Linked DNA regions of Homo sapiens. The protein of the gene in region 2 interacts with the protein of the main gene of each other region in a pairwise test. Each region holds a gene or a part of one and is shown on either strand. Other genes may lie near its edges.

Evidence for each region.
Region 1: the proteins of TNIP3 (region 2) and MAGEA2 interact in binary tests that used the Homo sapiens proteins (3 or more experiments, as listed by UniProt).

The regions. Positions count from the first base shown.
Region 1 is NC_000023.11:152,751,043-152,755,283, forward strand, and holds the start of MAGEA2 (melanoma-associated antigen 2), read right to left. Parts: upstream 2,801-4,241; 5' UTR 2,746-2,800; exon of another isoform or gene 2,500-2,745; intron 2,350-2,499; 5' UTR 2,271-2,349; intron 1,472-2,270; 5' UTR 1,352-1,471; intron 781-1,351; exon of another isoform or gene 683-780; intron 533-682; 5' UTR 467-532; intron 387-466; 5' UTR 322-386; coding exon 1-321. UniProt on the Homo sapiens protein: Reduces p53/TP53 transactivation function through recruitment of HDAC3 to p53/TP53 transcription sites. Also represses p73/TP73 activity. Proposed to enhance ubiquitin ligase activity of RING-type zinc finger-containing E3 ubiquitin-protein ligases.
Region 2 is NC_000004.12:121,143,192-121,147,855, forward strand, and holds part of TNIP3 (TNFAIP3-interacting protein 3), read right to left. Parts: intron 3,984-4,664; coding exon 3,858-3,983; intron 1-3,857. UniProt on the Homo sapiens protein: Binds to zinc finger protein TNFAIP3 and inhibits NF-kappa-B activation induced by tumor necrosis factor, Toll-like receptor 4 (TLR4), interleukin-1 and 12-O-tetradecanoylphorbol-13-acetate.

The DNA of each region.
Region 1 (4,241 bases), on a different chromosome or scaffold from region 2:
TGCTTGGAACTCGGACTCCAGGTCGGGAAACATTCTTGGCCCCTCCTCTTCTTGGTTGCTGGAGCCCTCATCGGATTGTCTCCAAAGAGTGTAGTTGATGGTAGTCGAGAAGCTGGAGGCTCCCTGAGGACTGTGGGGAGGACTCGGTGAGTCGGCAGCAGGCACCTCCCCCAGGGTAACTTCCACTAGAGTAGAAGAGGAAGAAGCGGTCTGCTGCTCCTCAGTAGCAGGAGCCTGCGCACCCACCAGGCCCAGGGCCTCTCCTCGGGCCTCAAGGCCTTCTTCAGGCTTGCAGTGCTGACTCCTCTGCTCAAGAGGCATGATGACTCTGGTCAGGGCAGCAGGCAGGAGTGCGGGCAGGAGCTGGGCAATGAAGACCCACAGGCCTGGGGAGAGAAGGAGCGTGTGTGAGGCCTTAGGTGAGAACTGAACTGAACCTTGGAGGCTCTGACAAAGGCTTACTTACAGATCTTCTCCTTCAATGCTCCTCCAGTGCCTCGGGTCCTACTTGTCAGCCTGTCCCCCTCAGAACCTGAAGGAGGAAGTGGGAGGGCACCTCAGGGTACAGCCGGCCAGCACATGCTCAGGCTGCAGGACTGAGAATAGGGAGGGTGAGGCCAGGCCCTCTGGAGTCCCATTTGTTCTGGGCGGGTGGGGCCCTTGGTGTGCATTCCAGGCAAACCTTCAGTGTTGGCACTGTCTGCGTCCCCTCTGCTCTGTGACCTGAGGACACTGACTCAGACCAAGGCCTCACTGCCTGGTTCCTGGAGCTCCTGATTCCTGGGAGAGGAATGCACGGGCCTTCAGTGTGCAGACTGCAAGCACAGCCACGGATTCCCAGAAGTCTCAGCAGGGTTGGCCAGACTCCGTGAGGTCCCCACTCTACTTGGGTGGAGGGTCCCCTCTGTGCTCACTCAGGGCCCTCACCTTTCTCCTTGTAGGGCCTAATCCCACCCTTTTGCTGGCTTGAGAATCTCTCATGTCAAGAACTCACATCCCTGATATGGTACAGAAGGAGATGAGGGGACCCACATCTGGCCATACGTGACCAGGTCCTCCCGCGAAGGACAACGAGAGATGTCCAAATTCATTGGAGTCCAGGTGTCCTGGGTGACGAGTCCGCTTGGTCCTCACGTCCACTCCTGGCAGGGCCTGAGACCCTCCCTCTACTGACCTGACTCCAGCCCCTTCAGACCAAGGCCTCCCCTTCCCTGACATCAAAGATCCCAGGATAATGGAGGGACTTCAGCTGACAGCCCTGCCCAGGGTCTCTGAAGTAACCGCAGGGGCAGGGCAGATTTCTATGGGGCCCCCTGTCTGCATTCTGGCCCAGGAGTACCCTCAATCCTACCTCAGGCTCTCCACCTGGATGCTTGGCAGATCCTAGAACCACTGCATCTGTCGACCAGATGGGGGCCCCTGTGTTGACCTGAGTCACCTTCTGAAAACAAGGTCATCAACTCCCTGAGATCTGGAAACAGAAGTGAGGAGGGGCCACATCCTGTTACCCCCACGTGCGTTGTCCAGGGCTGACCCCTTTGGTTCTAGGGTGAACGTTATGATGGCCTCCTGTGGGTTACTCATCTTTACTCCTGCCAGGGACTGCCCTTTCTCAACCCCCAACCCCCTGAAATGAGCAGACAGCTCCTCTTTACACCAACACCTTATCTCCCTGAGGGTTCCCCAACCTCCTGCCTGTGGTACAAATGAGATTGTCACTTAGGGCCATCCCTGATCAGGTTCCCCCAGAGCTAAGAACAAGGGACGGCCAGACTCTGTGGCATCCCTTCTTTCTGGGCCGGGGGTATCCCCAGTCCTCATGAAGGGGGCACACCTTGGGTCCGGCAGATCCTGGGATTCCTCCCTCTGCTGACCTGAAGTCCCAGCCCTCAGACCACAGCCCTCAACTCTCTGTCACCCTGAAGGTGCAATGAGCACGGGGCACATTCGGCCACTGTGCCCAGGATCCCCCAGCCCAAGGTTGCCACTGATCTGGACTCCAAGGTCCCCTCAGTCCTCCCTCTTCTTCCTCCCCTTGACTCCTCGCAGGGCTGGGCCCCAACCCCCTGCTGAAGTGGGTCTGCATCCCTAGGATTCCCGCGGCTGAATGAAAAGGTGGCTCAGTTTGAGACAGGGGTACAGTGGGCCCCCTGTCCTGGCATGCTGGGTCCCCTAAGGACTCCACTGTCTTCCAGGAGGGCCTGGGCCCTTCCTCTGCATCCCAAAGGCCATACTCACGAGACCCAACCCCTTCCCTCCCTTAGCCGTACATGTGAACGTCAGGATCCGCGTGCTTGGCCGCCATTCCCGGAGCTTCCGTGGGTTGATTGCAGGGGCAAAGCCCGGATTCTGCCAGGATGGTGGTGGGGGAGGAGATGGGAATGGGGTTTGGGGGTGGGGTTGGTGTTTGAGGGATGGGGGTGGGGTTGGTGTTGGGGGATGGGATTGGTAGTGAGGGTAGGGGGTGGGTTGCCCTCAGTCCCCTCTTGGGGTCCTGACCTTGATTCCTGGCTGAGTCTGGGCCCTGAGCACTTCTAACCAGCCCTGCCCTGGTCACACAAAGCTCTTACGCCAGAGTTCCCTGCGGTTAAAGCGGCGGGGGGTGGCGGGGTGAGGTGGTGGCGACTCAGCCTGAGAAGTCTTCCCCTGCAGGGTGGTCCAGGCCCGGCAGCAGAGGCAGCGCTGGATTATTGGGGGCCCTCTGTCTGGGGTGAGGCCCGCCTCAGTCCTCCCTCGGCGTCTTACCTTGCCTCCTCACGGAGCCTGCGCCTGCTTCCCTCCGCCGACGTCAGGCCGTTGCTCAGGGCGAGAATCTCGCTGTCCTCTGACCTCCAATGCGCAAGTCAGTGGCGTCACATCCGGGCCCGTGACTTCCCTGGGTTCACGGCAAGGGTGGAACCGGATTCTGCCCGGATGGGGATCTGGATGGGGGGGTGGGGGTAAGCATGAAGATGGTGTTGGTGTAGGGGTAGGGATTGGGACGGGGATCCTGAGGCTGTAGATCCTGGTGGGGTCGGGGGAGTTGGGGGTGGGAGGGGCCTTTGGTCATCCCTCAAGGTCCTGACTTGGATGCCAGACTGAGCCTGGACCGCCATCCTCTGCCGATTGTGTTTGCTCCCCTCAGACCAAGTCTCTGACTCTGAGTCGGCCCGAAGTGGCATTGGGGGGAGGGGTGTGCTCGGGGTGAGATCATTGCCAGTGTGTACCAGGGCTGACAAGAGGGGCTGAGCTGGATTCTGTGGTCCCACTATGTGGGTGAGGGTGGATCCTCAGTCCTCACTCAGGAGGGTCCTCTTCCTCACTCCTGGCTGTTTGATGAAGGAATGGGTGGGAGATGCTCTGTTTCTGTCACCTCTGAGCATCTGCGCATCTGCGCATCTGCACCCCTTGTAGAGAATGGCTGCGGGTGCCAGGCCAGGTGCTCCCTGCAGGGCAGGAGCTCCCGCGATGATAGTGACCTCTGGGAGAAGACGCACACCTTCCCACGGGGGCTCCTCCCCAGCCAGAGCTACACTTGGCAAACCTTTGGTCCTAAATGATTTATTCTCTGAATTGAAGAAATACGGTTTACATATCTTCTAAGTATATATGTAGGTAGCAATATATATATTTATTTCTATGAACTAACACCTACCCTTAGTATGCATGATTCACTCTGATATCCTAGTCTACTTCCATTCCAGTCTTTGTGTTCTGTTGAAAGAATTTTTTTAAAAAACATAATTCCTCTCCCACTCTGTTGGTTTCAGGTTGTTATTAGCAGAACTCTGGAGCCATGCTGCCTTAACAAACCCAATTTTCCTGGTGGACACTGCTATTACCTAGGGCTCTTGGCATCGTGTTTTCAGGGGCTGCCTCAGATTGTGCAATGAAGTGAAGTGGAAAATTCAAAACTTTTATTCTACCCATTCTTTCATCTGCCGTCTAGGCAGGCTACAAACCTCCCCAACATCTCTGCCGCTAACCCCCTCCAACAGACACTGCAAGTGTCACACACAAGTACCAGCTCAACACAGTCTCCAGTCTCACTCTGGGCTTTCCCTGTTTTGTTGTGTAGATTTTCTTGCTGATACTGGTGTTTTACTTTCTGTTTCCATTCTATAAATTTACAGGGTTGATTTGGGAAGCAGAGCACAGCAGCCCAAATTTGCTTGTAATGTCGGCGGCTACAGGTAAGGCACTAAATTGTAAATAATTTAAGCTGAGTTTACATTTTTACACTGTTGTGTTCCCCGTGAATG
Region 2 (4,664 bases):
CCCTCTATGTGATACTTAATACTATCTCAATTTTATAGATGAGAACACTAAGACATAAGATTCTGAGTAACTTGTTCAAAGTCACACTGCTATATCCCACAGCTTCTCACTACTTAAGGCCCAGCCTCATCTAGATGAATCACCTACCCTGGGTTCCCTTAACTTAAGACACATTTAGAGAAAGCTGGCTTTTCCTTGACTGTTCATTCACATCATTGTCATTCCTACACTCCATGTCCCACATTCCCATAAGGGATGGTCAAATATCCCCTTCTGAATGATACCTTTCCAAGTCCCACTTATCAGAATTATTCTGTCCTCTTATGTAGTGTTGTATATTTACTGTGTGATTTTTTAGACCAATGTGTACTATTTACAGGCAATTCTTGCTGCTTGTGGTGGTCATATTCCATAAAGTCACCACGGACACTGAATTAGTGAATATTGAACCACTGCTCCTAGGAGAAATGTTGGGTTAAGTTTCTGCTAGCCTCTTGTCACAACATTTGTGTCAATGGATCAATACATAACTTTGTTTCATGTGTGTTTCTGATTAAAGACAACTTATTTAATATGTATTGTTGATTAACTCTGAAGTCATGGTCAAGAGTACTATAACATGTCTTAATGAAGCTTCTCTAACACACTTTTTCTCTATAAGGCACATCACATCCTTCATGCTTAGGAATACTAGAGAGCATGACAGCATATACGTGTGGGCCATTCTAAACCATGAAATCACCAACAAATAGCACAAAAATGCAGGAAACATGGCACTAAATAGATCACAAAAAGAACACTAGGAATGTGTATATGTCAGGAAACAACTTTGCTGCTCTGCTCATATGTAAGGATGTATCACAAAGCACCACAAGTATTGATTTGGGGATGACAAATGCATTTTAGTCAGTAGGGAAATTCACATATGCAGAATTTGTGATGATGAGGATAGACTGTACATGTCTCTTTTACTATATTGTGAGTTATTTACTAGCAAGAACCAGTTTTCGTTTTCTCACAGCATATAGCAGAATGCCTTGCAAAAAGAAAGCATCAAAATTAGATTACAAAGAACTGAAAGTACCATGCTAATTATAAACTAAATGAAACTATTAAACATGCCCCCTCTTCTAATAGACTAAAATAATTTATAAAATACCTCTGAGCCATGACTTGACTTGAGCTAAATGTTTTCTAAAGCGTTTTTTTGTTTTTTTCTTTTCTTTTTGAGACAGAATCCCACTCTGTTGCCCAGACTGGAATGCAGTGGCCCAATCTCGGCTCACTGCAACCTCTGCCTCCTGGGTTCAAGTGATTCTCCTGCCTCAGCCTCCAAAATAGCTGTGATTACAGGCGCGTGCCACCATGCCCAGCTAATTTTTGTGCTTTTAGTAGAGACAGGGTTTCGCCATTTTGGCCAGGCTGGTCTCAAACTCCTGATCTCAGGTGATCTGCCCGCCTTGGCCTCCCAAAGTGCTGGGATTACAGGCATGAGTCACCGCACCCGGCCTGTTTTTGCTTTTTTCACTTAATATTGAGAACAACTTAGGAAGTCACAAGGTAGGTTTCATTATCTATATTTTACAGGCAGGTATACTAAAAGAGGTTAAGGAACTTATTTTTTAGAGAGAGATTTTAGAGTAATAAGAAGCATTTTAGAGATCATCTAGTTCAACTTTGTCATTGTACAGATGAAGAAAAGGAAGCATAGAAAAGTTAAATAACTTGTTCAAGGTTACCACCAATGGAATATTAGAGCAGGCAGGAACACCAAGTCTTTTCCCCCTAAATTCTCATATTTCTAAGTACCCTAAGCATCTTTCACTTTACCACATTACTTATTTTCACTGACTTAACGCATCCTCAGTGATAGAATGAATACATTCTGGTAAGAAAGCAACTCAGAATGCCAGAATGATTTGACCTAAATATTCCTCTAAAAGTCCACTTGGACAACAAATAATATGTTATTCAACTAAGGTAATGTCAGTTCTTTTTAAAATATCATAGCATTTAATCTGCTGTTAACACATTTAACACAGATCATCAAACCATCTATTACATCTCTGTGAATTCTATCATTCTCCTATTGAGTAAATGAGACTTTAAAAAAATGATTGAGCTTTCATTATTTTAAAGAAAAAATTTCATAGCTTTAATCTATCACTTTAGATATCATTAAGATTGTCCTTTAGGTTCAAGGCAGAATTATACCATACTGCATTTAGAAAATACATTTATTTTGTTGATACCAATCAACTTTACAGGTGACACAGTTAAGGACTTGTGGATTATAGTATACAACGTTAAGTAGATAGATATACATTCCTGACAAGACTAAAAGTTCTGTAATGGCAAGGACATTGCCAGTCTATCACCAATCTTAATATAGTAGAATAAATAAAATTATTTAATTAAATATAATTATATATTGATATATAATTTATCATATAAAAATAAATTATTAAAAATTGTTTTAAAATTAAAGTTGTTTTACTTGCTGTTTTACTGGCAGCAAATTTTAAAATTGCTTTAAAAAACAAATATTTTTTGTTCTAAAACTGTTTTACTGGCAGCAAGTAAAACAGTTTGTGCAGAGACAACTTAAAAGAAATTAGAGTAGTTGGGCATGTAAGAAACACATTAAAAGAATAAAAATACAAAAAAATTAGCTACTTGGGAGGCTGAGGCAGGAGACTAGCTTGAACCTGGGAGGTGGAGGTTGCGGTGAGCCGAGATCATGCCATTGCACTCCAGCCTGGGCAACAAGAGCAAAACACCATCTCATAAAAAAAAAAAGAGAGAGAGAGAATATACAATATATACTCTTTTTTTTTACCAAGAGTAATCAGAACATTGTCTTACCTATTATTGTATGAATTATTTATTAGGTTGCCTGAATTACTTTCATAAAATTATTTGATTTTTTACTACTATTTTATTTTTTCTAATTTCTTACAGAGAAAATGGTTCTGCAAAACAATTTTTTCCATGTAAAATTAAGAATTTCAAGTTAATCTTAAAAAAATCAGAGATAAAATTAAATTTAATTCACAATCCACTTTGTATTTGGAAGAAAATGATGACTGTTTTAAATTTTTTTATGACGAAGAATCTTGAAGCTAAGTGCTGCCACAGCATTCTCATAACAATGTTCTATTTATTTAAATGTATTGCAATATTTTACAAATAAAAATGGTGCAGTTTGTTTTATTTTTTAAGGCAAAATTATGTTAGCTACATTTTCCTTCATTAACATCACTATTTACCCATCGTGGCAACTTCCTGAGTCTACTTTAATATGTTCAATTACACTTAATTTTAGTATGCTTACATTTAATATATTCTATTTTAATAAACTGGTGACCATTATCTGGCTTCCTTCAAAGTACTCCAGTTACATTACATCTGGGAACCACTGAACAAAATCCTCAGTCTCACATATAAATGGCATTTAGAAATACGTATGTTTTTGGCAGACAGGAGCATTCCAACATAGCCCTTCAAAGAAAATGACAAGAATTTTAAAAACCACTTCACTTTATTTGAGTACTAGGTAGTTCAACTCTCATTCTACCAAGATAAATATTATGAGAAAAAGATCAAAAGGACTGTATTTTATTAAAAAAAACTTTGGAATGCAATTTCTTGGGCAATTCCTTAATATACTTAAGTTAAAAGAAATTTCCAGTCATTTTCATCTCTTTACAAGATTGTTTAAGAATGACTTCATCCCAGGTGCTGACCTTTAAAAAAAAATTCAATGTCAATTAACAGAAGTCCAAACGTCTTGAATTTTTTTAAATGAAAAAAATATACATACATGCTGGCAAAGATTATTTTGTTTTGACTTGTACCTGGGAATTCAGCCTGTTCAACTGGGATTGGGAAGTTTCATTAATTTGCTGTAGCTCCTCTTTCTCTTGATTAAGTCTCTCTCGATCCGATCGTTCCTTTTTGAAGTCTTCTTCGTATATTTGCACCTAAGAAATATTAGCTTGCTGTTACTGTAAGCTTCCTTTTCACTTAAGCCATTTAAATGACTTTATTTTAAATGACTGCTGCCTACTCCATTATTGTAAAGAACCCTCCCAACTAGTGTTCAGTGTCACTGTTTTGGAGCAAGTCATCCATCCCTAACACAAGGGCTTTGATGTATGAATACTGCTTGAACTTCTAAAAGACAGTTTACTGACAATAGATGTTAAGTGATGCCACTAAATACTGACATGCCCAAGTTTCCAGACATAAATTATAAGTTGAATGCAAAAAAGAAATGAAACCCTTACATATGTGGAAAAGCAAAGCATGATTGTTAAAAGGTATTCACAAATTTTCCTTTTATAAGTTATTTTGGATGTATCTCATAAATAATAGTAATATTTGAGTGGAACACCTCTTGAGAGGCACTCCAAATATTTGAGAAAAGTGACTAAACTAAAAACAAAAACAGGTTTAATTATTGTTACTGTTTTCAACTGACTTACTGTTGACTGAAGGTTAGCAGACTGGTATATAAAGCTATGAAAACAAATGAAAGGTAAGGAATGAAGTAAAAACATTCCTCTAAGATTCTGATTTAAATTACTACTTATATTGGAACCTATAGCTAGATTTTTATCTATTAAAACTAATGCACATTACACTTTCATCACTAACAGCCC